7 separate regions of the Homo sapiens genome follow, and all the other regions are linked to region 1. The links come from fine-mapping of genetic effects on gene expression. A gene starts in region 1. Each other region holds a variant in brackets. All regions are shown on one strand. Distances are from middle to middle.

Region 1 (4,075 bases):
GGCTGAAGATTTGGGCTAATTTCGTGAGAGACCTACGTTGCATTTCTTTCTTTTTTTTTTTTTTAGACCAAGTATTGCTCTGTTGTCCAGGCTGCTGGAGTGCAATGGCACGATCTCAGCTCATTGCAACCTCCACCTCCCAGGTACAAGCGATTCTCCTGTCTCAGCCTCCCTAGTAGCTCGGATTACAGGCGTGCGCCACCATACCCAGCTAATTTTTGTATTTTTAGTAGAGACAGGTTTTCACCATGTTGGCCAGGCTGGTCTGGAATTCCTGACCTCAAGCGATCTGCCTGCCTCGGCCTCCCAAAGTGCTAGGATTACAGGCGTGAGCCACTGTGCCCTGCCTTTTTTTCTTTTCTTTTCTTTTCTTTTGAGACGGAGTCTCGCTCTGTCGCCCAGGCTGGAGTGCAGTGGCGACATCTCAGCTCGCTGCAACCTCCGCCTCCTAGGTTCAAGGGATTCTCGTGCCTCAGCCTCCTGAGTAGCTGGGATTACAGGCGCCCACCACCACACCCAGCTAATTTTTGTATGTTTAGTAGAGACGGGGTTTCACCATGTTGGCCATGCTGGTCTCGAACTCCTGACCTCAGGTGATCCGCCCACCTTGGCCTCCAAGTGTTGGGATTACAAGGGTGAGCCACCGCGCCCAGCCCAAGGATTCTTACAGATAGGGCATAGTCTCAGCATCAGACTAATATGGTTATCTTGTTTGCTTTTTTCAAAAAACACCAGCGCCCAGGTAATAAATACAAGGTGAATTTTGTTCCAAGTACATCTAGCCTCTCTCCCCATCTCCAGTCCCTGCTTTAGGATCCGTGGGGAGGGCATGGAAATTCGTTTTGGGTTGTTTACCTGTGACTTCACCCTACTCATCATTCCTACTTACATCAAAAAAGACACAGCAGATACGACTGTGTTTGCAAAGTTCTGCCTTTTGGATAAAGTAGTTTATGCCCATCCTGTGCTTCTCTGAGTTTCTGAGGTCAGGCCAGGAACCAACACTCTCAACCTGCCCAAGGGAATGGGGAGGAAGCCAGCGAAGTTGCCTCAGATCAAGAGGATTTTTAAAAATACTGCAAAAGAAATACGTGCTCACAAATACTCAGCTAAAACCTTCGCAGAGCTGTCAGAGGACAAAGCTTTTGGAGGGAGTGGGTGGAGCTAGAGATTGCACAGCCGCCACCAGCCTACAAAGGTCAAATCTCACACTCTCAGATCCCTAATTCCGAAGAGCCATTTCCTCGGCAGCCCCAGGCTTTGGCCGATCGCTCCCAGATCCCTCCCTCCCCAAACTGCAGGTGCTCCGCGTGTGGGAGTCACGGATGGCCCCAGAGCCCGGGACGTTAAGGCCGAGCGCCCGCGCCTCCGCTTCTCCACAGCCACCTGACGGCCAGGGGCAGGTGGGGGAGCCCAGCCTTCTCCCTGCCCGGGAGACAGCGCGGGAGGGCTGTTGCAGGGGTGGGCAAAGTCCCTCGAGTCCCCGTTCTGGGGCGGGGGCGCGCGCCACTGTCACACTTCAGGCGTCCGCCACGCCGCCAGGTGTGCTCGGCCGACCCGGAAGTAGCGGCACCTCTAGTGCGCTGCGGAGACGTCACCCTGCCGCGGCACAGGGGCGGGAGCGCCTGTGGCTCTGCGCACTTGCGTCATCACGTAGGCTGGCGGGGTCCCGTGATGGGGAGGTGACGTAGGCGACACGGAAGCGGCGGTGGGCGGGGACAGGGAGTTAGCGGAATCTAGCCCCGCCTCTTAAAGCCTCCCAACCCTTTCGGAGTTAGCGCAGCGCGAACGCTGGGTGCGGCGCCTTTAAGCGTCGCGGTGACACGTGTGTGAGGCGCCGGAGGCCCGGATGGTGCGCGTGCTGGGCCGCGGGCCGAAGGAGTCGCCAGGGCTGCGTAGGCTTGTGGCGCGCCCGCGGAGAGGCCGGGGTAGGCTGGGGTCGGGTCGGGGCGGTGCGCAGGCCTGGGGACGAGACCGGGGCGGGGGGTTCCGCGAGGCCTGGGGCGCGGGAAGGGCTGGCGGGCGCAGCCGGGACGCTCAGGGAGAACGTGGGCGCGGGTCCGCGCAGGGCTTCGGCCGTCCCCGAGGAGGACCCGGGATGCTCCGCCCGCTCGCGAGCTCGCTTCTCCAGAGCCCGGGTATTCCCGAGGAGGGTCCGGGGCCGGGCTGTCCTCGCCGGTCTCCGCCGTCCCCCGGGCTCCGGGCCGGTGATGGGGGTCGCCGGGGCCCGCTGTCTGTGCAGGATTCAGGTCAACTTCGGAGAGGTTGAAGTCGGAATCAGGGCGAGGGCGTCGCGTGCGGCCGCAGAGCTCAGCGGGGCGGGTGCGGCCCCGGGGCGGGCACCTTCCTCGTGGTTGCGGAGGAGGCCATGGAGCCCGGGGCGGGGTGCGGTTCCGATGCTGCTGCTTCTGGCGGGTGGCGTGGGGGTCCTGGGCCTGGGGCTGGAGTGGCGGCCGCCAAACCCAGACACACGAGAGGGGAGACTCCGCGCGCCCCCGTTTACGTAACGCTCGCCACGGAGCCATGCTCGGGGAGAGGTGCTCGGGTCGCTGTGTCCGCGGCCGGGCTCGGGGCAGGCGCTGCGGAGTCGCCCGGGAGGCCCCTGGAGCGCGGCGCTGGGCCCCGGGAGGCCGCTGCTTCCGTGGGCTCCTCTCCCCAGCACGTGGTTGACCCTGCGAGCGTCCGTTGCAGTTCATCCTGGAAAAGTGACTTTAGAAGGAGGAGGGAGCGGGAATGAGCCTAAATGGTGCTGGCTGGGGTTCGCGCAGGTGGAAATGTGGATGAGGCCTGTGCTGTCCTTGGACAAGAGAGAGCATCCTTCCTGAGTTGGGTAGAGTGTGGATGGTGTGTGCGTCGGAGGGATTGCTAGTGATTACAGGAACACTTGTCTCGGGCTCCTACACGTCAGAGAGCGAGCGAGCGTTGTTTAGGTTATTGCTTAATGTTTTAGGTGGAATTGGTGAAGTAGAGATTGACCTGTCCCACTTGAAAAATTGTGTTCAAAATCTCTGCATCTACATTAAGGAGTGGGTTAAGTTCAAAGTTACTTATCTCGAGTGAAACTGGGTTACATCTCCCAAGGTTCGTTTATCCCCTCCCTAAGTGGTTCTCAAGCGTTGGTTGTGCATGACAGAGTTCTCACCTTCCAGGGTAGATGTGAGTCCTAACCGAAAGCAGTGATATTGTGGGGAGTTTTTAATACGACTGGATGTCTTCACTTTGTAGATGGCTTTTATTCTGAGATCATTTCCTTACACATTTTTCGGGAGTTGGTATGCTTTTATTTATGGATGAAGTCATAGGTCTGAGATTTGCTGTAGAATTACCTGGGGATGGGAAGTGACTCAGGATGGGTCAGATGTAGTTACTGAGGCTGAATAAGGGGGGCTCATGTGCTCCCTGTGCGGTTCTCCATCTGTGTGTTTGAATGTTTTCACTGTAAACTGTTTTTACGAACCTTAATTTTATGTAATCATAGTGATCGTAGATGGTAATGAAAGAGAAAATCCACACTTAGCAAAGCAAAATTTTGGCAACTCCTATTACTCCCTGAGGTTTGTTGTTGTTGTTATTGAAGTTTTACTGGTTCATTAAATCCAAAACTTGGGGATTTATTACCTCTTACTCTTTGGAAATAAGATTAGACTGGAGCTGACTGGCAGGTGTTGGGGAGGTTTTCCTTCTCTGGGCTTGTCTGGGGTCAAGGTTAAGGTGTTCATATCGTGTGCATTACAACAACTGGTGATGAGGTAGTACGGTCCACCCGCCTCATCCTGAGTGCACGCGTGGATGCTCCTTGGACGGCTTTTTCGTGGTAGAGGGTTCCCGGTGCGCGCCGCATCCCTGGGAAGTAGCTGAAGAGAAGGCACAGGAAGAGTCGCCTCCACTGATGGTCTCCCTGTCCCTCCCACAGGCTCTGACGCCCGCTCTGCGGCTTCGGTGTTTGAACAGGCCACAGTCCAGGAGCGCTTACATTCAGGAGCTCCGCGTAGCACCTGCCCAACCAAACTCAGCCCTCCGTTAAGATCCTGGTTCCATGCCGCAGTAGGACAGCAGGCCCAAGTCTGCACATCCC
Region 2 (4,075 bases), 41 kb after region 1:
GGGACCGCGTGGGTGTGCACCGGGCAAGGGGGTGGGGGACCGCGTGGGTGTGCACCGGGTGAGGGGGTATTGGGGAGTGCACAGGCTGAGAGCAGCGTCTACTGCATCTGAGCTTGGGAGGGTCTGGGAGAAGATGTGGAGGGCCCTGGGACCCTACCAACCTTCACCCCCCACCCCCGAGTCTGCTCCCTTGGGTGATGGGGTTGAAGCTTCCTCATGTGTCACAGCATTTGACTGAAACAGCCCCATGAGAGAGGTTACAGTGCACATGAACTTTAAAACATTCTGTGAATGCCAGTGGGTCTTCCGATTCAAAGCTGTTCTGTCTACAGCTTCTCACGGAATGACTCCCTGAACTCCCAGCCTGAGTTTTTTTCTGTGATGGTTGAATTTAGAAGAGTTGGGTTCAAAAGTGAATCCTCCTCTCCCTCTATGTAGCTGGGCCATTCAGAACATAGCACGGTTTGCTTGCTGTTGGGGACCTGTGTGCTGTGGCTGTCCTTGGGCACCACCCCTCAATCGGAGGGTGTTTTGTTTTCTTTAGGGCTGGCTGGGGCATGCCTTGGCAGGCACCCGCCACAGAACACATTTGTTAAGTGAAGGGGAGAGAAAGTCCTGGCTGCTTGGTATAGGGGGCCGAGCTTGAGTGAGGCCTCCTCTGCAGTCTGGAAGGTCTGATTATGGCAGTGCATCTGGGGGTCAGCAGGACCTTAGAGACTGATTTGTATTTATCCAACTCTTAAGAAAGGAATTTATCGTTAAAAATGAAATGGTATGAAATAAATAGCAAAACGTGGGTGCTAGCTAGTGCCGACTGAGTTTGCTGGCCAGCATGCTCTCAGAAGTACTGCCCTGGCCGGGGGTGGTGGCTCACGCCTGTAATCCCAACACTTTGGGAGGCCGAGGCGGGCGGATCACAAGGTTAGGAGATCGAGACCATCCTGGCTGACACGGTGAAACCCCGTCTCTACTAAAAATACAAAAAGTTAGCCAGGCATGGTGGCGGGCGCCTCTAGTCCCAGCTACTCGGGAGGCTGAGGCAGGAGAATGGTGTGAACCCAGGAGGCGGAGCTTGCAGTGAGCCGAGATTGCGCCACTGCACTCCAGCCTGGGTGACAGAGTGAGACTCCGTCTCAAAAAAAAAAAAAAAAAAAAAAAAATACTGCCCTAACATGGCACCAGAGCTGTGCTCCGTGCCACCCTCGGAGCGAAGTGGAGTTGGCTTGTTAGTGCAAGGGACATCACTTGAGCACTTGCGGTGCGCCAGGGTCCATGCCAGGTGCTGGTTGTGTCTACTGAAGTGCGCCCTGGGCCCTCGGGGCTCCCTGGCAGAGCCAGAACCACACAGTAAGGGCTCATGCTCAGCAAGGAGGCGCTGGGGGCCGCATGGGCTCTTGCAGTCCTGTGCACCTGAGGAGAGTGGCTAAATGGGCAGGGCACCAGACCCAAGGGCAGGAGGCGCAGCACGTTGGGAGCAGGCAGGCTGCTCTGCATGGCCGGGTCCCTGGGCTGTGTGGATGAGATGGGAACCATGGAAGCCACTGTGTGGGGGCAGGGGACACTTAGCCTGGAGCTCACTGAGGAATTGGAGGCAGGGAGAAATGAGGTCAGATTTGTGTGAAGGGAGGTGAGTATATTCCAGGGGCTATGTGGCTAGCTGGGCAGAGGACGAGTTCAGAAAGGGTTTCTAGAACCCGATGAGGGTGGTGAGTGCTGTCCTGGTCCCGAGGTGCTGGGTGGACCTGTGC[G/A]GTGTTGCTGATGGGGACCAGGTTCCCCCTGGACAGGGCTTAGGAGGTCGGGCCCCTGATGGCAGCAGCCAAGCTTGGCCGTTCCCTCCACCCCTGTGGCCATCCAGGTGTCAGGCTGGTCCTGGGGCATGGGCCTCTCCCGTAGGTGAGGTGGATTCCATTTAGATCTAGTTCTCTTCTCTCCTTCTGTCAGACTGAGGACTTAACACTACTGGTTAAAGGGGTTTTGGAGGGTTTTTTTTTTTTTGGTTTTTAGCTTTTTGTTATTTTCCATGTTTTCTTTCTCATGAATTGACTTGGACAACAGCCTTCTCTATTGTGTCAGGTCATTAGTAAATTAAGCATGTAAGCATTAGTAAATAAGCATTTAGGCTGGGCGCCATGGCTCATGCCTGTAATCCCAGCACCTTGGGAGGCCAGTGGGAGTCCCAAGGAGTTTGAGACCAACCTAGGAAACATAGTGAGACCCTGTCTTTAAAAAAAAAAAAAAAAAAAAAAAAAAAAGGCAAGCATCCACTTACTGTAAGTTGTTTTATAATTTAAGGTGTGCGATTGCTTCCCCAGTGGGTTATTTTAAACGTCTGTAAATGTTTCTTGGCTGCTCCGATTGCAGGGCTGAGCCAGGCCCCTCCTGTGTCTTGGAATGGAGAGCGGGAGTCTGATGTGGTCCAGGAACTGCTCAAATACTCATCTGATAAAGCTTACGGGAGAAAAGGTACTGATTTGGAGACAGGACTTCTGTTTGCCTTTCATTGGTTGGTTTTGTAGGAGGGAAGGGTGTGGAATGGATCCTGGTGCACTGTGAGTGTGGCGGGCGGGCATCGCTCGGCTTTGAGAATGGGAAGAGGAATCTCAACACTGGCTGGAGTCCTCTTTAAACCCTCAGCCGTGGCACGAAGGTGGCTTCTGTCCGTGGCAGGATCCAGAACAGCTGCTTCTGAGGGTTGGGGCAGGGTGAGGAGCCCCACACATGCTGTGTCTTGGGTAGGGAAGGGGCAGAGTGACGAAGCTCTTCCAACCTGGGTAATGTCACTTCTTGCTCAGAGCATGTTTTTATTCAGACTTCGAGACCAAACATGACATCTTTGTTCCTCAGACGAGGGCATGGGTTTAGAAAGAACTGAACTCTTTGGCTGTGGTTTAGGGTTTAGCTAAGAGGGCATCGCTGGGGGTTCCATGCTGACCGACCACACATGGGCGTCGAGCCGTCCTCCTCTTGTCCTTCTCTTCACCACAAGGTGGCACTCAAAATTGTTGACTAATTATGAGTAGACTAGTTGGTAAATGACACTCTTGAAGTGAAGCCACAGGGGACCTGGGAACCTGCACTCGTGCTGACCCCCGTGTCTGCCTGGTAGTTCTGACCTGGGATGGCAAGATGTCGGCGGTCAGTCAGGATGCTATTGAAGACAGCAGACAGGCCCGGACTGAGACCGTGGTTGATGACTGGGACGAAGAGTTTGACCGAGGGAAGGTATGATGTGTGATGCTGACCACAGGCTTGAGGGAGCAGGGCGGCGTGGCTCAGCTCAGAGCCGGGGCAGTTGGAGGTGGCGGCAGTGGCATGAAGCGGCCGAGCATGAGAAGAGCCAGGCTGCCCAGGCCTGTCCGGGCGTGTGGCCATGGACAGGGCATGCATCCTCGCAGCTTCCGCCCCTTTGTCAATAGGGGGACTGCAGGTCGCCGTGCACAGGGGTCATTGTGAAGAGTGGGTCTCCAGAGAGCTCATGAGAGCCCGGCCTGTGTGCAGGACCTGCATGCAGCATGGAGCCCCGTGGGCCAGGAAAGAGCCGTTTTTGGGAACTGTGATGCCTGTGATTCTTGGTCTAGGAAAAGAAAATTAAAAAATTTAAGAGAGAGAAGAGGAGAAACTTCAACGCCTTCCAGAAACTTCAGACTCGACGGAACTTCTGGTCTGTGACTCACCCAGCAAAGGCTGCCAGCCTCAGCTATCGCCGCTGACTGTGCCCCTGTGGAAGGAGGTCGGTTCCGAGGGGGTGGGTGTAAGGGTGAGGTGGGGGTGTGTGTGCCGTGTATGTGTGTAGGGGTGTGGTGGGGTGTGGCGTGTGTGTATGATGTATGTGGGCTGTGTATCTGGCACATGTGTGTTGGGTGGTGTGTGTGGTGTGGGCGCGTCTGTGGTGTGTGTCCTAGTCACTTGGAGAAGGGTGTGTGTGGGATGCGTGTGTATAAGGGGGTGTGTGTGGGATGCGTGTGTATAAGGGGGTGTGTGTAGTGTGTGTTGGGTGTGGGGTGTGTACACCTGGCATCTGTGGCATGTGTTCTGGTCACTTGGAGAAGGGCATGTGTGGGGTGTGTGTGGGATG
Region 3 (4,075 bases), 49 kb after region 1:
AGACGGGCAGCTTTCTGTGTCTTGTCAGCTGAGCTGACTCCCTGGAGTCACACTCTTGCCCGGAGGTGGCCCTGCTGCTGCTTCGTGCAGATCCCGCCTTGGCTTGGCCCCCTGCTCCTTCCATATCTGGACTGGGGATGACCCTTGGAGAAGATCATCTGGGTGCCATGGATTCGGCTTTCAGGGCTGTCTGGCTGCCCTTCTTCGTTGGGCTCTGCCTGCCTTTTGGGATTTCTGCCCTTGGTCTTCAGGCAACTCCTTCCTCTCTCTCCCATTCTTTTCAGTGATCCCTGCACACTATTTTGCTCTCTCATTGCATATGTGCCCACTACTCTTGGTAAGTGACTTCCAAGGCTACCTCAAGAATTCCCATCCCACCCCAAAATTAAACAACATGGGGAAACCAAAGCTAAAACCAGCTCCTCTCCCTCTGTTCTCTTCTCCTTCTTACCTCAGGGTTCTCAATGCTCATAGGGCAGCAGGAGCACCTGGGGAGAGGCATTCGATACTGACGGAAGTAGAATCAGAATCTATGGGTGAGGCTTAGGCATCAGCATTTAAAGCCTTCCTGGGGGGGTGAGGGGGGCGGGCGCGGTGGCTCACACCTGTAATCCCAGCACTTTGGGAGGCTGAGGCGGGCGGATCACTTGAGGTCAGAAGTTCGAGACCAGCCTGACCAACATGGTGAAACCCTGTCTCTACTAAAAATACAAAAATTAGCTGGGCTTGGCCTGTGCCTGTAATCCCAACTACTTGGGAGGCTGAGGCAGGAGAACTGCTTGAACCTGGGAGGTGGAGGTTGCAGTGAGCCAAGATCATGCCACTGCACTCCAGCCTGGGCGACAGAGTGAGACTCTGTCTCAAAAACAACGACAACAAAAAAAACCTTCCCGGGGGGATCATAGTGAGCAGCAGAGTTGAGAGTTGCCATCCTGGTCCCTGGTCTCAAACTCAAGTGAGCACCAGAATTGCCAGGGGCTCCTTAAAACACCAGTTGCCGGGCTCCTTCCCCCGCATTCTGATTCAGCAGGTCTGGGATGAGGCCTGAGAATGTGCATGTCCAATAGTCCCCGGGGCTGCTGCTGGGCAGACCCACTGTTCTGATCTGATGCCTCCCAGAGGGGCTGGGTGGTTGGTGTGGGAGAGTGGGAAGGAACTGTAGTATAGGGGCTGTTCCCCATCCTCTGTGGGGACCTCTACTGGAGATGCTGGACGAGGTGCCCCCTCTGTGTATGCTGGCACCCCACCTGTGCCCTTGAGGCCAACTTCTTCCACCCTGGGGACCTTGCTCCATTAATTACCCTGTCTGCTCCCGTGTCTCACTCTTCCCTTAGGAACATGTTCAGGCATCTCCCATCCTAAAAAGCCTGTGTGTCCTTGTGTCCCCTCTCAGCTGCCCTCTCCTTTGGTTGACATTCATTTTGCTCTGTGTTGACTCTCTGTGGTTCTTAGTCTAGCTTCTGCCATCATCACTTCTCAGTGACCTAATTCCCACTCTTGCCACCGACTTCTTCCCAGGATTTGACACTGTTGACCTCCGCACCCTGGAGAGCTCCTCTAAGATGTGAGCCTGTTGCATTTGCTGCATACTCTAGATCAAGCCCAGAATCAACTGATCCAGTCAATACATCCCACTGAACAGCCGACCGATCCACCCTCTGTCAGGATCTCTACTGTAGACACTGAAAGAGGTGCCCCCTCAGTATAGGATCCTGGCCTCAAATAATCTTCTCGCCTTGGCCTCCCAAAGCATTGGGATTACAGGTGTGAGCCACTGTGCCTGGCCTCCAGGACA[A/G]TCTTTTAAGGCAAGAAACCAGAATCTAATCATTCCCCAACATAAGGTTTCTCACTCCTGTTCAGAGAAAATAGTCTCCTCTATTTTGTGATCCAGATCCCCCCTGCCTCTTCAGCCTTCCACAGCCCCCTAGAGGCCTCTGGGCAGCTGTCCAGCCCGTTGTTCTGGGATCTCAGAAAGCACTCCAGGCATTGAGGAAATTGCCCTGTGAGAGGGGCCTGAGATTAAAAATGTGCTTGTTCTTAGCAGAATCTGTACCAAACTGTTGCTTCAAGTTGCTTTCTCAAGGGGAAACTGCTGTATATTTTTGCTGCTTTAAAGGGATTAAAGTAGGGTCAGGCTGGAGTCAGGTTTGAATCATGACTTCCTATAAAAAGAAGGCCAGGGCCGGGCACGGTGGCTCATGCCTGTAATCCCAGCACTTTGGGAGGCCTAGGCGGGGCGGATCACCTGAGGTCAGGACACAACATGGAGAAACCCCGTCTCTACTAAAAATACAAAATCAGCCGGGCATGGTGGTGCATGCCTGTAATCCCAGCTACTTGGGAGGGTGAGGCAGGAGAATCGCTTGAACCCGGGAGGTGGAGGTTGCGGTGAGCCGAGATCGCACCATTGCATTCCAGCCTGGGCAACAACAGCGAAACTCCAGCTAAAAAAAAAAAAAAAAAAAAAAAGAAGGCCAGATTGGGAATCAAGACCTGTGTTCTAAGGGGTCTGCCATGAGTTAGCATCATGAATTTGCTTTTCTCCTCTAAAATGCAAAGGTTAGATTCAAATTATCATGATTGTCAGCTGTCACTCTCACGATACATGTCTTGCATGCGTGTTTTCATTGGTTTTCTCCCTTACTGCTTCATTTAGGAGGGTGTTGATTAGAGGAAGCAACAGGACATGGCTGCCAAATATCCATTAGACATTGAGTGAGAAACAGGTCACAAGATTGCCACTCCCTTAAGCAGGATCTAGGTATTTAGGTAGCTTCTTACCATCATGAGACCAGATTTCAACACACAGTCTAAGTACATGGCAAATACTTGCTGCGAAATGTGTGTAGGAAATTCAAGTTCTTTTACATAAACCAGTGATTTTTTTAAGGCCATTTTAAAATGAATGTGTTGGCCGGGCGCAGTGGCTCATGCTTGTAATTCCAGCACTTCAGGAGGCTGAGATGAGAGGATTGCTTGAGCCCAAGATGTCGAGACCAGCCAAAAAAGGCCAGGCATGGTGGCTTGTACCTGTAGTCCCAGCTCTTTGGGAGGCCACGGCAGACAGATCACAAGGTCAGGAGTTCAAAACCAGCCTGGCTAACATAGTGAAACCCTGTCTCTACTAAAAATAAAAAAAAATTAGCCGGGCCTCGTGGCACACGCCTGTAGTCCCAGCTACTCGGGAGGCTGAGGCAGGAGAATCACTTGAACCCAGGAGGTGGAGGTTGCAGTGAGCTGAGACCGCGCCATTGTGCTCCAGCCTGGGTGACAGAGTGAGACTCTGTCTTTAAAAAAAAAGAAAAAGAAAAAGAAACCATATCTCCACTAAAAATACAAAAATTAGCCAGGCGTGGTGGTGGGTGCCTGTAATCCCAGCTATTCAGGGAGGCTGAGGCAGAGGAGTCACTTGAACCTGGAAAGCCGAGGTTGCAGTGAGCTGAGATCGCGCTATTGCACTCCAGCCTGGATGACAGAGCGAGACTTCGTCTCAAAAAAAAAAAAAAGGTATTATTCTGCCATTTTTCTGTCTTATGTGGCTACAGTTCTCTTGGCAAGGCCTAGCACTTACCAGCCACCCGGTAAATATTTGTTGAATGAGTGAACTGGAGCAGCTGCTGAAGGCAGCATACTTTGTGACTGCATTCGGACCCTGCTCAGAAAACAGCCAGCCCACCGTCCATCAAAGTCAGTGGCTCCGCAGTCCACACTGCACTAATTCCCCTTCACATTGCCTTCCCTGAGCCCTACCCGCACCCCCTTTGTTTTTCTGCGTAAGTGAAAACATTTTGGTGAAGTCTAGCAGGAACTAGAGCACTAGCTCCTCTATTTGAAGTGAACGCCCAAACCGTGGCACGTGGCCAGCTGTCTTTTGGGTGGCACAGGGAACAGTTGGTGACAGCTGGATACAATCAAGTTCCATTACAAACAGATTTTAAGTGTCATTTACACACAGAAGAAATTGCAAGCTTTAGCAAAATAAAATCTGGGGGTTTTCAAAGCAAGACAATGCCCCAATCCAAGCCTGTGTGAGCAGTTCGCTTTGCAGCCTCTTGCGGGGATTAACACCCCTTCT
Region 4 (4,000 bases), 310 kb after region 1:
GCAGACAATAAAAATGTGATTAATACACACACCGACCACCTTGGGATTCTCCAGTCCTGTATATAAGCCAACGAGTTCTCTCTTTGCTTAACCAGTTTGGGTTGGGTTTTCTGTCACTGGCAACTAAAAAGATCCGTATAGCACTGGCCTCTCGTGCTCTCTGCTCTAGCCACCGACAGTAGACTTCCTTTAGTTCCCCTAACACGCTGCCTCCTCCCACCACGGGGCCTTTGCACGTGCTTTGCTGTTGCCAGGAAAGCCGCTTCTCTTGCTCCTTGTCTACCCATCCATCAGCTCTCAGACCAATGGCCATTTCCTCGGGGCCATTCCCTGACCTGCTCCCCATTTCACCTGAAGCAAGGGGGAGGGTGGAGATGCTTTTTTCTGTGATTCTTTGATGAATGTCAGACCCCATTCCTGGGCTGTACACTCCCTGCCTGTGCCCCAGTATCTATCCCAGCATGTGGTACGCAGTGAGAGCGAGCTATCGAATGAATGAATCAATGTGTGAGTCATCTCGGGGTTCCCCAGACAAACGTCACACTTGGCATACCTTCCCATGGCAGAATATTGCAAATCGGCAAAGGTTCCTATTTCCCGTGGTGAGAGCTTGGGCCAGGCACAGTGGCACGTGCCTGTGGTCCCAGCTACTTGGGAGGCTGAGGCAGGAGGATCGCTTGAGCCCAGGAGTTCTGGGCTGTAGTGTGCTATCCACTAAGTTTGGCATCAGTATGGTGACCTCCCAGGAGTGGGGGACCACCAGGTTGCCTAAAGAGGGGTGATCGGCCCAGGCTGGAAAAAGAGCAGGTCATCATGAGAGATTGGAAGCCCTTTCGCCAACAGAGAACCACTTCTCAAGGCCGAGAGGACAACACCTAAATTATGAACCAGGCAACATACCTCCCCTTTTTGCTTCTCCCCTGCCCCTTTCAGATGGACCTGGAAGATAACACAGACCTCATAGAGATGAGGGAGGAGGTGTCCAGCCTGGTCATCAATGCCATGAAGGAGGCCGAGGAGTACCAGGATTCCTTTGAGAGGTACTCCTACCTCTGGACGGACAACCTGCAGGAGTTTATGAAGAATTTCCTGATATATGGGTGTGCAGTCACTGCGGAGGACTTGGACACCTGGACAGATGACACCATCCCCAAGACACCGCCCACCCTGGCTCAGTTCCAGGAGCAGGTGCGTGCAGACCTCACCCACCAGCCTCCTTGTCTCCAGAGTCTTCCAGGAGAGGATCACCAGGCTTGCTTTAAAACTTGGGTGAATTGTTTTAAGATGCAGGTTTCCAGGTAGGGCAAGGCAAACATCAGGAGGTGACCACCATTAGAAAGGCAGTTTGTTACTTACAGTTCCCAAGAAGGGGGCATAGCACACCACACAGGCCTGCACGGGGTAGCATCAGGGTCAGTCAGGAGGCAGAGGGAGCTGGGGAAAATGTGGGGAAAATAAAGAGCCTTTATTGTGGCTTCCAGGGAAGGAATGGGCAGAGGTCACAGGCTTAGGGTTGGCAAGTTTGAATAATTTCAGCAGGCTCTAGGCTATAGGGGCTGTCTGGTACCTGACCTCAGGGAGATGAGGGCTGAGGGCTAGTGGGTAGCAGCCCAGAAGGTAAAACCCTGTGAGAGCCCCATCAAGGGGATGGTCGGAGGTGTGGGCTCCGGGTTGGCTCATTTGCATATGAAACCACACCCCCAGGTGAATTGTTTGTTGTCTCTCAAAATTGACTAGGCCTGGGAGGGGTCGTCCATGGGCAAGGCCCCAGATGTCAGAGCATGAAGAACACAGAAAATCACACCTGTCAGTGTAATAACCTCAAATGTAAATGGATTCAATTCCCCACTTAAAAGATATAGATTGTCTGAATGGATGAAGGTAACCCCAATATATGCTGCTTAGAAGAAACTCACTTCACCTGTAAAGACAGATTGAATGCAAAAGAATAGAAAAAGAGATTCCACACAAACAGAAACCAAGAACAAGTAGGAATAACTATAGTTACATCAGATAAGACAGACTTTATGTCGGCCGGGCGTGGTGGCTCACGCCTGTGATACCAGCACTTTGGGAGGCCGAGGC[G/A]GTTGGATCGTGAGGTCAGGAGATCGAGACCATCCTGGCTAACACGGTGAAACCCCATCTGTACTGAAAATACAAAAAATTAGCTGGGCGTGGTGGCAGGCGCCTGTAGTTCCAGCTACTCGGGAGGCTGAGGCAAGAGAATGGTGTGAACCCAGGAGGCGGAGCTTGCAGTGAGTCAAGATCACGCCACTGCACTCCAGCCTGGTGACAGAGCAAGACTCCATCTCAAAAAAAAAAAAAAAAAAAAGACAGACTTTATGTCACAAACAGTAAAACGAGACCAAGAAGGTCACTATGTAATGACAAAAGGATCAACTCAGCGAGAGGATTTAACAATTCTACATATCTATGCGCCCAGCACCAGAGCACCCAGATATATAAAGCAAACAGTGGTAGATCTAAAGGGAGAGACCCCAGTACAGTAACAGTTAGGGTTTTCAACACCCTGCTCTCAGCGTCAGACAGATCATCTAGACAGAAAATCAGCAAAGAAACATTGGAGTTAAACTGCACTTTAGATCACAGGGACCAACAGACAGCTACAGAACACTTTACCCAACAGCTGCAGAAAGAATGCATAAAATAAGAAAACATAGTTAACGCACAAACCTCTAGCTCTGTTCCCAATGCACAGTGAGAAAGAGGGCCCCGTGGGCAAGGGTGACCCATGCCCAGGGGTACATTCTGTAGCACAGGGTTGGGGCAGCAGGAGGAGTGACAGAGGCCTCAGGTAGAAGGATGAGCTAGGGATGCCCTTTAGGAGCCTGTGACCTGGTTCACCTCTTGAAGCTTCTGTCCTACCCAGCTTCAGAAGTCCTGCTGCCATGACCCCTTCTGCCCCTTTCTGATGGACTGGCACCTTCTGGGGCTAGACTCTGGGGCTGGAAGGAACAATAACTTGGAATGAGGGCCCCCATGTGTCCCGTACTGCCCTTTGCTGACCCTGGCCCCAGAGTGGCCGGCAGGTGAGCAGCGCAGGTGCAGTGCAGGAAGGCCCTGGACTGAGGCCCTGTGCTGACGCCCCCCCTAGGCTTGCAGGCTATGACAGGCCGCCGGTGGCCGTGTTTTCCAGATCGACTCCTACGAGAAGCTGTATGAGGAGGTGTCCAAGTGCGAGAACACCAAGGTGTTCCACGGCTGGCTGCAGTGCGACTGCCGCCCCTTCAAGCAGGCCCTGCTCAGCACAATCCGGCGCTGGGGCTTCATGTTCAAGCGGCACCTGAGCAACCACGTCACCAACAGGTGGGTCCCCAGCCATGTACTCGGGGAGCCCAAGGAATGTGCAGAGCACCAGGGAGTGGCCTTCCACTTGAGTGGGTGGCATTTGTCAGGTGCCTCCTCTGGGGTAGCAGGGGGTGGAGGCTGGGCTTCAAGGCCAACTACCCCACCAAGCGTGAGCAGAAAGGTGTCACCGGGCTGCGAGCAAACATTATCCCTTCTCCAAACCCGGTGTACCGAGCACCTGCTCTGTCCGGGTGCCAGATGCGGAGGAAACCAGAAGTCTGTCAGGGAAGGCTGGCGCTGAACAAACAGACTGGCAGCTGTGGGATTATAGGCGGCCATCAGGGCCATGATGGGCACAGTGCCAGGAGAGAGCATTGCCTGGCTGAATTCCATCCGGGAGGCTAGTGAAGGCCTCTGGGATGTGGCCGTAGCTTGGGACTTGAGGATGGGCTTGAGCTAAGTTGCTGAGGCTTGGGGTGATGTCTGGGCAGGGGCTGAGTGAGCTGGAGGGATCCAAGGTGGGCAGGGGCGCTCCCTCCCCACCTGGGGCCTTCAGTGATGGCCAGTTGACCTCACCGCGGTCGTCCCCCTCTCATGGGGCTCCGTACCATCAAGGGTGGGCCTAAGGGGGGCTGGGGCCACACAAATGGTCCCCTTGTCCCTTAGCCTGGCTGACCTGGAAGCCTTCATG
Region 5 (4,073 bases), 32 kb after region 1:
AGGCTGGTCTGGAACTCCTGACCTCAAGTGATTCGCTCAGCTTGACCTCCCAGAGTCCTGGGATACAGGCATGAGCCACCGTGCCCGGCCTGGATGACTGTTTTTGATGGATCGTCTTCCTCTCCCTTTAGAATGAAGAGTTGAACCCCACACACAGGCAGTCAGGGCCTTTCACAGTCTGCAGGGGTTTTGGTCATTTACGTACATCTGTATTTCTCTTCACATTAAAGAAAATAGAAGCTGAAATTAGAAGCATTAGAATTGAAGTGGCAGTAAAATACATGATATAATTGCAAAGTTGGTGGTCACTGTAGCCCAGACTAGGAAGTTAGGAAGCAGCCTGGGCCTGGGACTGTGACTCATGTCTGTAATTCCAACACTTTGGGAAGCCGATGTGGGAAGATCAGTGGATCCCAGGAGTTCGAGACCAACCTGGGCAAAACCCTGTCTCTACTAAAAATGCAAAAGCTAGCCAGGTTTAATGGCACGTGCCTGTATTCCCAGCTACTCAGGAGGCTGAGGTGGGAGGATCACTTGAGCCAGGGAGATTAAGGCTGGAGTGAGTCATGATCATACCACTCCACACCAGCCTGGGCAACAGAGCAAGACCCTGTCTCAAAACAAATTTAAAAAGTAGCCTGGGCAACATAGATCCCATCAGCACAGAGAATATTCAGTAAGCTGTTGGGGGAGGATCACTTGAACCCGGGAGGTTGAGGCTGTATGCAGTGAGCCATGATCACGCTGGTGAATTCCAGGCAAGGTGACAGAGTGAGACCTTGTCTACAAAAAAAAGAAGAGGGGGGCCGGGCACTTTGGGAGGCTGAGGTGGGTGGACCATTTGAGGTCAGGAGTTTGAGACCAGCTTGCCAATATGGTGAGACCCTGTCTCTACTAAAAATACAAAAGTTAGCTGGGCATGGTGGCGTGCGCCTGTAATCCCAGCTATTCGAGAGGCCGAGGTAGGAGAATCGCTTGAACCCGGGAGGTGGAGGTTGCAGTGAGCTGAGATTGTGCCACTGCACTCCAGCCTGGGTGACAGAGCGGGACTCCATCTCAAAAAAAGGAAGCAGCCTGGGCAACATAGAAAGACCCCCATCTCCAAAACCCCATCTCCAAAAAAAGTGCAAAAATTAGCCAGGTGTGGTGGTGCACGTCTGTTGTCCCAGCTGTTTGGAGGTTGAGGCAGGAGGATCACTTAAACACAAGGCTGCATTGAGCTATCATTGTGCCACTGCGCTCCAGCCTGGACAACAGAATGAGACCCTGTCTCAAAAAACCCCAGAAAAACAAAGGAAGCCCCACTTGCCACAGGAACTCCATGGGCAGAGTGATGCCCGAGGGTGGAGATTGGCTCAAGGAGAGTCCCTGTGTCAGGCACACCTGCAGGGGCGCTTCACTGACCATGAGCATTTTCATTACAAACGTGATTTTCCAAATACACTGCAAGCAGACGAGCCGTTTTACTCTAAATGACATGGTGCAAGTTCTAGTGTGTATGGAAATGTTCAGCCAGTGAAACGGCTTTGCGGTGCAGTGGAAAGATGAATTCCTTTTAGAAAACAGTATTAACAAAGAATAGAATGTAGGGAACAAAACAAAACT[T/C]GGAAGAAAATAGAGGTAAATTCTTAACCTCTGGGAAGGGAAGAAGACTTTGTATGCTTAAAGTTGAAGGATAAAATGTAGAAGAATTATGAATTGACTAAGATTTACATTTTTGTACATAATTTACTACAAACAAATGAAGCAATAAAACCTTGTAAAATATTGTCAACAAAAGGTTAACATTTGTAAACAAAAGATCTCATTCAAATGAAGATCACTTTAGTGCATGTGCAGAGAATATGAATGTTAAAGTGGTAATAGCCCAAACGAGTGTCAAATTAGCAAATGTTTTGAAAAATAGATGTGGCTGGAGTATAGTAAAAGCAGTTTGGCATTTTGCATCAGATTTCATGAAAATGAAATCTGTAATTTCATTTCCAGAAAATTAGCCTTGTAATTCCATTTCCAGAAAATTAGCATGGAGTACTAAGTACAGGAAAAGCTCAACAAATATTTTTTAAGCACCGACTCTATACCAGACCCTTGAGTTGCTGGTGAGGGCTGCAGTGGGAACGAGAGAGATAACGGGTACAGCCTCTTGGTCAAGCAGGGGAAGGCTGACATTCAGCATCTAAATACAGAATAATAAGTTATTTCTATGCAGTTGTAATAAGTGCTCTGAAGGGTAAAGGATACACACACATATACTGTACAGTATTTTTAATTTCAACAGTTGGAGACAATATAGCTTATATAAATTAACCATACAGTTAATGTGTATCAGTAGTACATAGTATATATAGTAAAATGTCAAAGACAGGCCGACAGGCAGGGTGCAGTTGCTCAGGCCTGTAATCCCAGCACTTTGAGAGGCCAGGGTGGGAGGATTGCTTGAGCTCAGGAATTCAAGGCTAGCCGGGGCAACATAGCAAGATCCCCATCTCTACAAAATAGTAATAATTATTCGGGTGTGGTGGTCTACTCCTATAGTCCTAGCCAGTTGGGCAGCTGAAGTGGGAGGATCTCTTGAGCCCAGAAGGTTGAGGCTGCAGTGAGTTATGATGACATCATCATGCCACTGCACTCCAGCCTGGGCAACAGAGCAAGGCTCTGTCTTAAAGATATTTATTGAGAGTTATCGCCCATAAAAATGCTTGAGATAATAGCTTTAAGATAAAACTGGGATGCAACTCTTCAGGCCAGAACCATTTGGAAGAAAAGATTGAAAAAAGAAAGCACTAGAATGTTAATGCATGGTTATGTTTAGGTGATGGAACTTTGCTAAATTTCTTCCTTTATACTTTTTTCTCTTCCCAAATCTTGATGAAAATGTACTGGTTTTATAGTAAAGGTGGCCATAAAGATATGTATTCAGGCCAGGTGCTATGGCTCACACCTGTAATCCCAACACTTCTGGAGGCTGAGGCAGGTGGACTGCTCGAGGCCAGAAGTTTGAGACCAGCCTGGCCAACATGGTGAAACCCCATCTCTGTCAAAAATACAGAAATTAGCCAGGTGTGGTGGTACACGGCTGTGGTCCCTGTTCTTGGGATGTCACAGAACACCAGAATTGTTCAGAGAAGCCACAGTGTCTTTACCAAGAGTCCAGATAAATAATTTATCTTGAGCATGCTAATCAGAGGCCATGCCTGCTACTAAGATTCACTGTGGCCTTAAGAAGATGTGGCCCAGCTGAGACTTCTCGCTTCCTCAGTTGTGTTTTCTGCTTTGGTCTCCTTAGCGACAAGACTCTGGGACGATGAAGAAGCCGCACACCACTGAAGAGATTGGTGTGCCCATATCCAGGAATGGCTCCACCCTGGGCCTGAAGTCCCAGAACGGCTGCATTCCTCCAAAGCTGCCCTCGGGGTCCCCTTCCCCCAAACTCTCCCAGACACCCACACACATGCCAACCATCCTAGACGACCCTGGAAAGAAGGTGAAGAAGCCAGCTCCTCCACAGCACTTTTCCCCCAGAACTGCTCAGGGGCTGCCTGGGACCAGCAACTCGAATAGCAGCAGATCTGGGAGCCAAAGGCAGGGCTCCTGGGACAGCAGGGATGTTGTCCTCTCTACCTCACCTAAGCTCCTGGCTACAGCCACTGCCAACGGGCATGGGCTGAAGGGGAACGACGAGAGCGCTGGCCTCGACAGGAGGGGCTCCAGCAGCTCCAGCCCAGAGCACTCGGCCAGCAGCGACTCCACCAAGGCCCCCCAGACCCCCAGGAGTGGAGCGGCCCATCTCTGCGATTCTCAGGAAACGAACTGTTCCACCGCTGGCCACTCCAAAACGCCGCCAAGTGGAGCAGATTCTAAGACGGTGAAGCTGAAGTCCCCTGTCCTGAGCAACACCACCACTGAGCCTGCAAGCACCATGTCTCCTCCACCAGCCAAAAAACTGGCCCTTTCTGCCAAGAAGGTGGGTGTGTGGGGGTCTCGCCGCTGCTGTGTATCAGGAGAGCTCCAAGAGTTGCTTGGTTGTGGTTTGAAGGGAGTGAGAACATTGTCCGGGGGCTTTGGCCTCCCTC
Region 6 (4,075 bases), 21 kb after region 1:
TGAGTCAGGAGAATTGCTTGAACCCAAGAGGTGGAGGTTGCAGTGAGCCAAGATCCCACCACTGCACTCCAGCCTGAGTGACAGAGCAAGACTCTATCTCAAAAAAAAAAAAAAAAAAAAAAAAATATATATATATATATATATATATATATATATATTCTCATTAGGAAGTGCCGTGCACGCGTGCAGGGAGGAGGCAGCTCTTCCCTCTGCTCTCCCTCAGCAGGAGAGTACCGCACGTGGTGGTCAGCAGTCCAGGCAGGGAGGGCCCTGTGAGTGCAAAGATATTGACATCCATCTTTGTGAACTTCAGTGGTGAAAGAGAGCTCTCTGTTCGGACACCAGGATGCTTCAGGGGCTAGTGGGAATCTCATCTTTGGCCAAAGCCCTGCTGAGAGTCTGCCTCCCTGCTGGGTCTCGGTCTTGGGAGCTGGGAGTGCCTCTGCCAGGCCCCACCTGCTCCACTGCCTCTGTTCTGTTGCAGTGAAGTGCTCCGTGTGCAAGAGCGTCTCGGACACCTACGACCCCTACTTGGACGTCGCGCTGGAGATCCGGGTACAGATCTGTCCTGCCCTTCACTTTTGCAGTAGGAGAGCGAGGCCAGAGGGTGAAACAGAACCCGCAGAACAGTAAAGGCATCAGATCAAAATAGATAGGGAGAAAACTCCTTTGCTCCCTGCCGCCTTGCAGTACAGACCATTGTCTTTACCTGTTTTTTTCTAGAGTTTTTCCTAAGCGTATCCTTTTATTTAAAGAAAAAAATGGTAAAATTGGGTTTTGTGTCCTGAAGCATGAACAGGAACAACGCTGTCCCCAGGGCTTGAGGAGAGTCTGTTGTGTGCTCTGGGCGGCGTGCAGCCTTTGGAGCTTGGTGGCTCTGTGGGCCTCACCTGGGAGAGCAGCCTTGGCTTTGTCGCACATCCTGCTGCAGCTACAGGGTGCGGGAGGGTGGTCTGCCTTTGCTGGGCCAACCCAAGCTCCAGAGCAGGTCCAGCTACAAGATCATCCTGATAAAAGTGACTGATTCATGGCAGACCTGCAGCTGTCATTTCTTTGCTTTGCTTTTTTTTTATAGGGGCTTGAGGGACAGGGTCTTGCTCTGTGGCCCAGGCAGGAGTGCAGTGGCGCAATCATAGCTCACTGTAGTGTTGACCTCTAGGCTTAAGTGATCCTCCCACACAGCTGGTACTACAGGCATGCACCACCACGCCTGGCTAATTTTTTAAATTTCTTTGCAGAGACAGGGGTCTTGCTATGTTGCCCAGGCTTGTCTCAAACTCCTGGCCTCAATGATCCTCCTGCCCCGGCCTCCCAAGGTGCTGGGATTATAGGCGTGAGCCGCTGTTCCTGGCTGCTTTCATTTCTTGTCTCTGGAGAAGGAGTCCCAATCTGGCAGCTAGTGGGCAAATTTTTATGCGAGTCTAAGTTCTGTGATTTGCTGCCTCAGCCTAAAAAAGACCTTAAATTTGGCATTTCTTGAATCAGCCTTTTTCCTCTGCTGTGTATTTTACTCCCTGTTTTTGTCCTCCTCAGCAAGCTGCGAATATTGTGCGTGCTCTGGAACTTTTTGTGAAAGCAGATGTCCTGAGTGGAGAGAATGCCTACATGTGTGCTAAGTAAGTTTCACGTTGCTTGTGGCAGAAGACTGATACCAGACGGGAAATAAGTCCCCTCACCTGACAGTGTTGTGCCCACCCACTCTTCCTTAGCGGTGACCGCTGCTCGCATTTCTTGAGGAACCTATGTGTGTCCTAAAAACTCAAACTTCTAAATAACACGAATGAAGCAATAGCTATGATTTTTATAGCTACAGTTTACACCATACCTGTTCTAAAGATGCCGCATATATTGTGCAGTAGGGGCTGTGGTTTCCCATTGCTAGGGATGGTGAAACTGAGGCACAGAGAAGTGAAGTGACCAGCCATGGGGCCACACCAAGAGGACGTGGCAGAGCACGAGCTCACATCAGTTCACACTGGCTGGCACCGGGCGGCCGCCCCAGGGACTGTGCCCAACCAGCTGCTCTCTTGCCTCTTAAGGAGTGTTTTCTTTGGCTTTCATTTTTTACTTAACTGGTTTTGGACATTTTTCCGTTTCTGCAGATAGAACTCTTACTTTGTCATTTGTTGCATTTTTAGTAGTGACAGGGTTTCACCTTGTTGGCCAGGCTGGTCTCGAACTCCTGAACTCAGGTGATCTTCCTGCCTTGCCTCCCAAAGTGCTGGGATCACACTACTACAGCCGGCTGAATATCTTTATATCTAGGTCCTTGTAAAGCTGTAGGCACTAAAGAATATATTCTTAATTCTGCTTTACTCTTCTTTAGGTCTGTTTCCTGCAGCTCTCCAAGCTGCGCGCCTCTGCTTCTGTTTTCTCTCCCTGTGTTTGCGCATCTTCTAGCTTTGCTTACGTTGACTTCCTGCCTGCCCGTTT[TA/A]TCACTCAGCCACATCTGCTTTAATTTGCTCTTTCCTGTGTTGGCCCAAAGCAACTTTTTCCTGTATTTTATTTAGTTTCCTGGTGGGTACAGTACTTTTATTTTTTTGCTTTAGAATCTTCCCACTTTCTGTAGTCTTATTTCCCTGTGGTAGCTTTCCTTTACTTGAGGCATGCTTAATGTGATTTTGAGAGGAGCAGAAGGTCGAAATCTCATTGATGAAGATTCCACTATTACAGAGCAGTTGTTGCTGTTATTAACTTAGCGTTAAGACAACATTTTTCAGAGCACGAATCAATCATTCATTAATCTTTCTCATCACCTTCTTCATAGATGCAAGAAGAAGGTTCCAGCCAGCAAGCGCTTCACCATCCACAGAACATCCAACGTCTTAACCCTTTCCCTCAAGCGCTTTGCCAACTTCAGCGGGGGGAAGATCACCAAGGTGAGCGCTCGTGACACCATCCCAGGCAGCTCCGTGGGCCACAGTCGGCATCAGAATAACACGAAGAAAGTGATAGCCACGAGTTTGATAGCTGCTGTTTACACAGTACCTGTCCCTGTTCTAAAGGTTCTACACATATTGTGAAGTAGGGACTGTAGTTTCGCCCTTGTCCAGGACGGGAAGACAGTCACAGAGAGGGGAAGCAACCTGGGACGCCTTTTAAAAATAGACGTTTCTGGGTTTATCCCAGTGCCAGTGAATTTGAATCTCTGGAGGACAGGGCCCAGGAATCTGCATTTTTGCAAAATCCCTGAATGCTTGTTATACACAGTCAAGTTCCAGGGCCACTGTCTTAATGGATTTACCGCAGCTTCTGGTTGTGCTTGGGCTGGTCCTGGCAGGGACTTTCAGGGTTCTCCAGATGAGTGTGATGAGCACTGGGCGGTGGGACTTGCATTGTCCATGTCCTTTTGATGTCTAGAACAGGTGCCGTTGCATGCTCTGGCTTTTTATGAAATATGGAGTTTAGAAAAACTACTTTTGACACGATGGTATTTTATTGTTTAAATTTCATTTTGTTTTAAGACAGGGTCTCACTCTGTCACCTGGGCTGGAGTGCAGTGGCATAATCAGCGCTCACTACAGTCTTGACCTCCCAAGCTCAAGCGATCCCCCTGCCTTAGCCTCCTGAGTAGCTGGGACTGTGGGCACATGCCACCATGCCTGGTTAATTTTTTAAAAAGTTTTTTGTAGAGACAGCATCTTGCTGTGTTGCCCAGGGTGGTCTCAAACTCCTGGGCTCAAGTGACCTGCATGCCTTGACCTCTCACAGTGCTGGGATTACAGGTGTGAGCCACCATACCTGGCCTATAGTGGCATTTTCATAGAAGATGTGTTTCTTTTTTCTTTTTTCTCTTTTTTTTTTTTTTGAGACAGAGTCTTGCTCTGATGCCCAGGCTGGATTGCAGTGGCGCTGTCTCCACCTTCTGGGTTCAAGTGATTCTCCTGCATCAGCCTCCAGAGTAGTTGGGATTAAGGCGCCCACCACCACACCTGGCTAATTTTTGTATTTTTAGTAGAGATGGGGTTTTGCCATGGTGGCCAGGCTGGTCTCGAACTCCTGAGCTCAGGTGATCCGCCTGCCTCAGCCTCCTAAAGTGCTGGGATAACAGGCATGAGCCACCGTGCCCAGTAGA
Region 7 (4,075 bases), 85 kb after region 1:
GAATTACTATTTTTTTAAACTTTTTTTTGAATTTTTTTTTTTGAGGCAGAGTCTTGCTCTGTCACCCATGCTGGAGTGCAGTGGTGCGATCTTGGCTCACTGCAACCTCCACCTCCCTGGTTCAAGCAATTCCCCTGCCTCAGCCTCCCAAGTAGCCATGCCTGGCTAATTTTTTTTGTATTTTTAGTAGAGAAGGGGTTTCACCATGTTGGCCGGACTGGTCTTAAACTCCTGACCTCAGGCAGTCTGCCCGCCTCAGCCTCCCAAAGTGCTGAGATTCAGGCATGAGCTACTGCACCCGGCTGAATATTTTTTTAATCTTTTGGGTTGCTGATATAATTAAAATTTTTTCCTGCCTCTCTCAGCATTGGCAGAATGAACTTTGTTCTAAGAACCTCGGCTAGTGTTTACATGTATTAGAATGGGAAAATTATAGCAGCTTCTTTCCCAGGTCGTTTTTTATTCATCTATTCAACAGATACTTATTGAACACCTATAATGAGCTGGACACTCTATGGGCCTTGCAATTTAGACATGAATAGAGTTCTCAGGTACCTTACATTCTAATTAGAAGGAGAACTTTGACCTCTAACCAAGACCTGTTTAATTCATAGGAGGGTTTCTTTTCTTTTTTTTAAACTGCACTCACGGTCATCCCCCCAAAGGATGAGGGTTTCTTAAGTTATGTTGAAAATTCAAACCTTGAGTCCGGGCATGGTGGCTCACGCCTGTAATCCCAGCACTTTGGGAGGCCAAGGCAGGTGGATCACGAGGTCAGGAGATCAAAACCATCCTGGCTAACACAGTGAAACCTTGTCTCTACTAAAAGTATGAAAAAATTAGCTGGGTATGGTGGCGGGCGTCTGTAGTCCCATCTACTCAGGAGGCTGAGGCAGGAGAATGGCGTGAACCCAGGAAGCCTGGGCGACAGAGCGAGACTCCATCTCAAAAAAAAAAAAAAAAAAGAAAAAAAAGAAAAAAATTCAAACCTTGAAATTCCGCCTTGTGAATAATCTTAGTCTAATTTTTGCCATGTTTATTGGAATATAGGCCAGTGGTTGAACTTTGTGTTCCTAACCTCTCAGCATCCTTGTGTCTCCTGGTGATTATGAAGGCTTTTTTTTTTTTAAATGAGATCTTGCTCTGTCACCGAGGCTGGAGTGCAGTGGCATGATCATAGCTCACTGCAGCCTTGACTTCCTCGGCTCAAGTGATCCTCTCACCCCAGTGGTATTTTCTAATAGACATCTGTGTCCCCAAAATGTGTTAAAGACTTTTGAAGATGAGTCCACTCAAATAATGATTTAGTTCTGAATAGACAGATTTTTAAATTCTTTTTTGTTTTTTAGATGGGGTCTCACTGTGTCACTCAGTTCTCTGAAGGACTTCAAATAGCCTCATTAGCAAACTAGGGGTACTAACTGACATTTTCAGCACCTTTAATTGGTGATGATGAGCACATTAATTTCCATTTGTCTATTTGCTGCAGACTTTTCAGGTTCCTTCTCCTTGTTTTAAAAAAATTATTGAGGTATAATTTACATGGAATAAATGGTATCCATTTAAAGTGTACAGTTTGGCTGGGCGCGGTGGCTCATGCCTGTAATCCCAGCACTTCGAGAGGCCGAGGCGAGTGGATCACTTGAGATCAGGTGTTCAAGACCAGCCTGGCCAACATGGTGAAACCCTGTCTCTACTAAAAATACAAAAATTAGCTGGGTGTGGTGGTGGGCGCCTGTAATCCCAGCTACTAGAGTGGCCGTGGCACAAGAATCGCTTGAACCCAGGGTGTGACGGTTGCAGTGAGCTGAGATCACGCTGCTGCACTCCAGCCTAGGTGACACAGCAAGACTCTGTCTCAAAAAAAAAAAAAATAAAAATAAATAAATAAATAAATAGTGTACAATTTGATGGGATATATTCAGCAGTTTTGTACACCAGTGAAACCACTATCACAATAAAGCACAATATTTTCTTGACCTGAAAAAGATGCTTCATGGCCCTTTTTGTTTTGTTTTTCTTTTTTTGTTTTGTTTTTTTTTT[G/TG]AGGCAGTGTCTTGCTCTTTCTCCCAGGCTGGAGTGTGGTGGCATGAACACAGCTCACTGCAACCTCAACCTCTTGGGCTCAAGCAGTCCTTCCACCTCAGCCTCCCAAGTAGCTGGGACTACAGGCTTGCACCACCATGCCCAGCTAATTGTTTATTTATGTTGCCCAGACTGGTCTTGAGCTTCTGGGCTTAAGCAGTCCCCCTGCCTCAGCCTCCCAAAGTGCTGCCACCGAGCCTGGCCGCCGCTTCATGTCCTTTTGCTGTCCATTCCTCCCTCTACCCCGGCCCCAGGCAACCACTGATCTGGTTTTTGTGACTACAGATGAGTTTGTATTTCCTAGAATTTTATGTAAGTGAAATCATACAATGTTACAATGTATATTCTGTGTCTGGCTTTCTTTCCTTTTTTTTTTTTTTAAATAAACCCACTGCCAACATCATACATGTCTGGCTTTTACTCAGAATGATGTGTTTGAGGCTGGGCGTGGTGGCTCACGCCTGTAATCCCAGCACTTGGGAGGCCGAGGCGAGCGGATCACTTGAGATCAGGAGTTCGAGACCAGCCTGGCCAACATGGCTGTCTCTGCTAAAAATACAGAAAGCTACTCTGGAGGTGGAGGCAGGAGAATTGCTTGAACCCGGGAGGCGGAGGCTGCAGTGAGCTGAGATTGCGCTATTGCACTCCAGCCTGGGTGACAGAGCTAGACTCTGTCTCAAAACAAATAAATAAATAAATAATATTATGTTTGAGATTCATTGTTGGGGGTATCAGTTGTTCCTTTTCATTGCTGAGTAATGTTCCACTGTATGGCTGCACCACGTTTTTGGTCTCTTCACCTGTTGATGAACATATGAGTTGTTTCCAGATTTGGGCTATTGTGTATAAAACTGCTGGGAACATTCATGTATGAGTCATTATGTGGATATGTTTTCACTTCTCTTGTGTTATACCTACACATGGAATGGCTGGATTGTGTGACAGACCATTTTCCCCTTAAAAATGTTTTATTATATATAAAATATAATAGAGGTTAGTTAGGAATGGAATGTACAAATGATATGTAACTAGTTTCAAAATAAGGCTTAGAAGAGCTTTTATTTAACATAAGTATAATATGCAAAGCAGTTAAAGATTTTTATAAGTATGTTATTTTGCATAAATTTAAAAATGGATTTACCTTAAAAAAGTGACATAAAACTTCAGTCACAAACTAAATGCAAAAATTTATTTTATATTCTTGTACTAAAAATCACAATTTTGGGCTGGGCATGATGGCTCACACCTGTAATTGTAGCATTTTTTGAGGTTGAGGTAGGAGGATTGCTTGAGCCCAGGAATTTGAGACCAGCCTGGGCAACATAGTGACACTCTGTCTCTACAAATAAAAAAGAAAAAAATTAGTTTGGCACGTTGGTGCACACCTGTGGTCCCAGCTACTTGGGAGGCTAAGGTGGGAGGATTGCTTAAACCAGGGAGGTTGAGGCTGCAGTGAGCCAAGATTGCACCACTGCACTCCAGCCTGGGCAACACAGTGAGACCCTGTCTCAGAAAAAAAAAAGAAAACAAAAAACCCCACAATTTTCTATTTCCTTAAAATTGAGGGAAAGTCACGTAAAAACTAGAAGTATAAATTCTTATGGGTGGGCAAATCTGCGTAAGAGGGTTTGTTTTTGAAGCATGGCAGATCAGAGAAGACAGTTGCTCTTGGAAAGTTCTGTCAGCATCACACGCATGCCTTTCCTTTCCGAGTTTATCTAGATGCGCTGCTTCTCAGTAGCCGGTCGCTTTGTCCACGACGGTCCTGACACACAATGTGACATAGCTTCACACAACGGCCACTTTGACCCTCCCTCCCTACTCCACGTGTATCTAGAGGAGAGGATCCTAGCATGCCATCAGCCAGGTGTTTGCAGTACGCTGGATTGATGATGTCATTACCACTCAGTGGTGAATCATTTTAAAAAAGGGGTGAGGTGGGGGACTTCTTATATTTTTTAAGGGATTATTTTAAAAATCATTTTAGAACAAT

Evidence for each region. PIP is the estimated chance that this variant, and not a neighbour inherited with it, causes the effect.
Region 2: its variant is fine-mapped to the expression of USP36 in whole blood (INTERVAL, PIP above 0.99).
Region 3: its variant is fine-mapped to the expression of USP36 in adrenal gland (GTEx, PIP above 0.99). The same link has a PIP of 0.9 or more in minor salivary gland.
Region 4: its variant is fine-mapped to the expression of USP36 in coronary artery (GTEx, PIP 0.94).
Region 5: its variant is fine-mapped to the expression of USP36 in whole blood (INTERVAL, PIP above 0.99).
Region 6: its variant is fine-mapped to the expression of USP36 in whole blood (TOPMed, PIP above 0.99).
Region 7: its variant is fine-mapped to the expression of USP36 in monocytes (Quach 2016, PIP 0.95).

Annotation. Positions count from the first base shown.
Region 1 is chr17:78,838,589-78,842,663 of GRCh38, reverse strand. USP36 (ubiquitin specific peptidase 36) reads left to right here and starts at 1,850. Exons shown (of 21, transcript NM_001385174.1): 1 at 1,850-1,928; 2 at 3,914-4,075. It overlaps LOC124904067 (a long non-coding RNA gene), which reads right to left and starts at 1,550. Exons shown (of 2, transcript XR_007065923.1): 1 at 1-1,550. RefSeq lists silencers at 1,363-1,462, 1,923-2,442 and enhancers at 1,583-1,772, 3,367-3,881, 3,882-4,075.
Region 2 is chr17:78,798,055-78,802,129 of GRCh38, reverse strand. USP36 (ubiquitin specific peptidase 36) reads left to right here. Exons shown (of 21, transcript NM_001385174.1): 18 at 2,362-2,463; 19 at 3,107-3,222; 20 at 3,579-3,730. The coding sequence ends at 3,710. Among named protein-coding and RNA genes, the nearest start is that of CYTH1, 18 kb to the right of the region's middle. The variant G/A (reference allele first, on the strand shown) is at 1,749.
Region 3 is chr17:78,789,524-78,793,598 of GRCh38, reverse strand. It overlaps a transcript of USP36 not described here. Among named protein-coding and RNA genes, the nearest start is that of CYTH1, 9.3 kb to the right of the region's middle. RefSeq lists an enhancer at 2,155-2,324. The variant A/G (reference allele first, on the strand shown) is at 1,796.
Region 4 is chr17:78,529,670-78,533,669 of GRCh38, reverse strand. DNAH17 (dynein axonemal heavy chain 17) reads left to right here. Exons shown (of 81, transcript NM_173628.4): 20 at 934-1,188; 21 at 3,158-3,327; 22 at 3,976-4,000. It also overlaps the pseudogene RN7SL454P. Among named protein-coding and RNA genes, the nearest start is that of DNAH17, 46 kb to the left of the region's middle. RefSeq lists an enhancer at 103-1,302. The variant G/A (reference allele first, on the strand shown) is at 2,086.
Region 5 is chr17:78,806,850-78,810,922 of GRCh38, reverse strand. USP36 (ubiquitin specific peptidase 36) reads left to right here. Exons shown (of 21, transcript NM_001385174.1): 14 at 3,287-3,964. Among named protein-coding and RNA genes, the nearest start is that of CYTH1, 27 kb to the right of the region's middle. The variant T/C (reference allele first, on the strand shown) is at 1,606.
Region 6 is chr17:78,817,471-78,821,545 of GRCh38, reverse strand. It overlaps USP36 (ubiquitin specific peptidase 36), which reads left to right. Exons shown (of 21, transcript NM_001385174.1): 8 at 485-555; 9 at 1,534-1,616; 10 at 2,768-2,879. Among named protein-coding and RNA genes, the nearest start is that of USP36, 21 kb to the left of the region's middle. The variant TA/A (reference allele first, on the strand shown) is at 2,434.
Region 7 is chr17:78,753,879-78,757,953 of GRCh38, reverse strand. The region is part of intron 1 of CYTH1 (cytohesin 1); the gene reads left to right. Among named protein-coding and RNA genes, the nearest start is that of CYTH1, 26 kb to the left of the region's middle. The variant G/TG (reference allele first, on the strand shown) is at 2,044.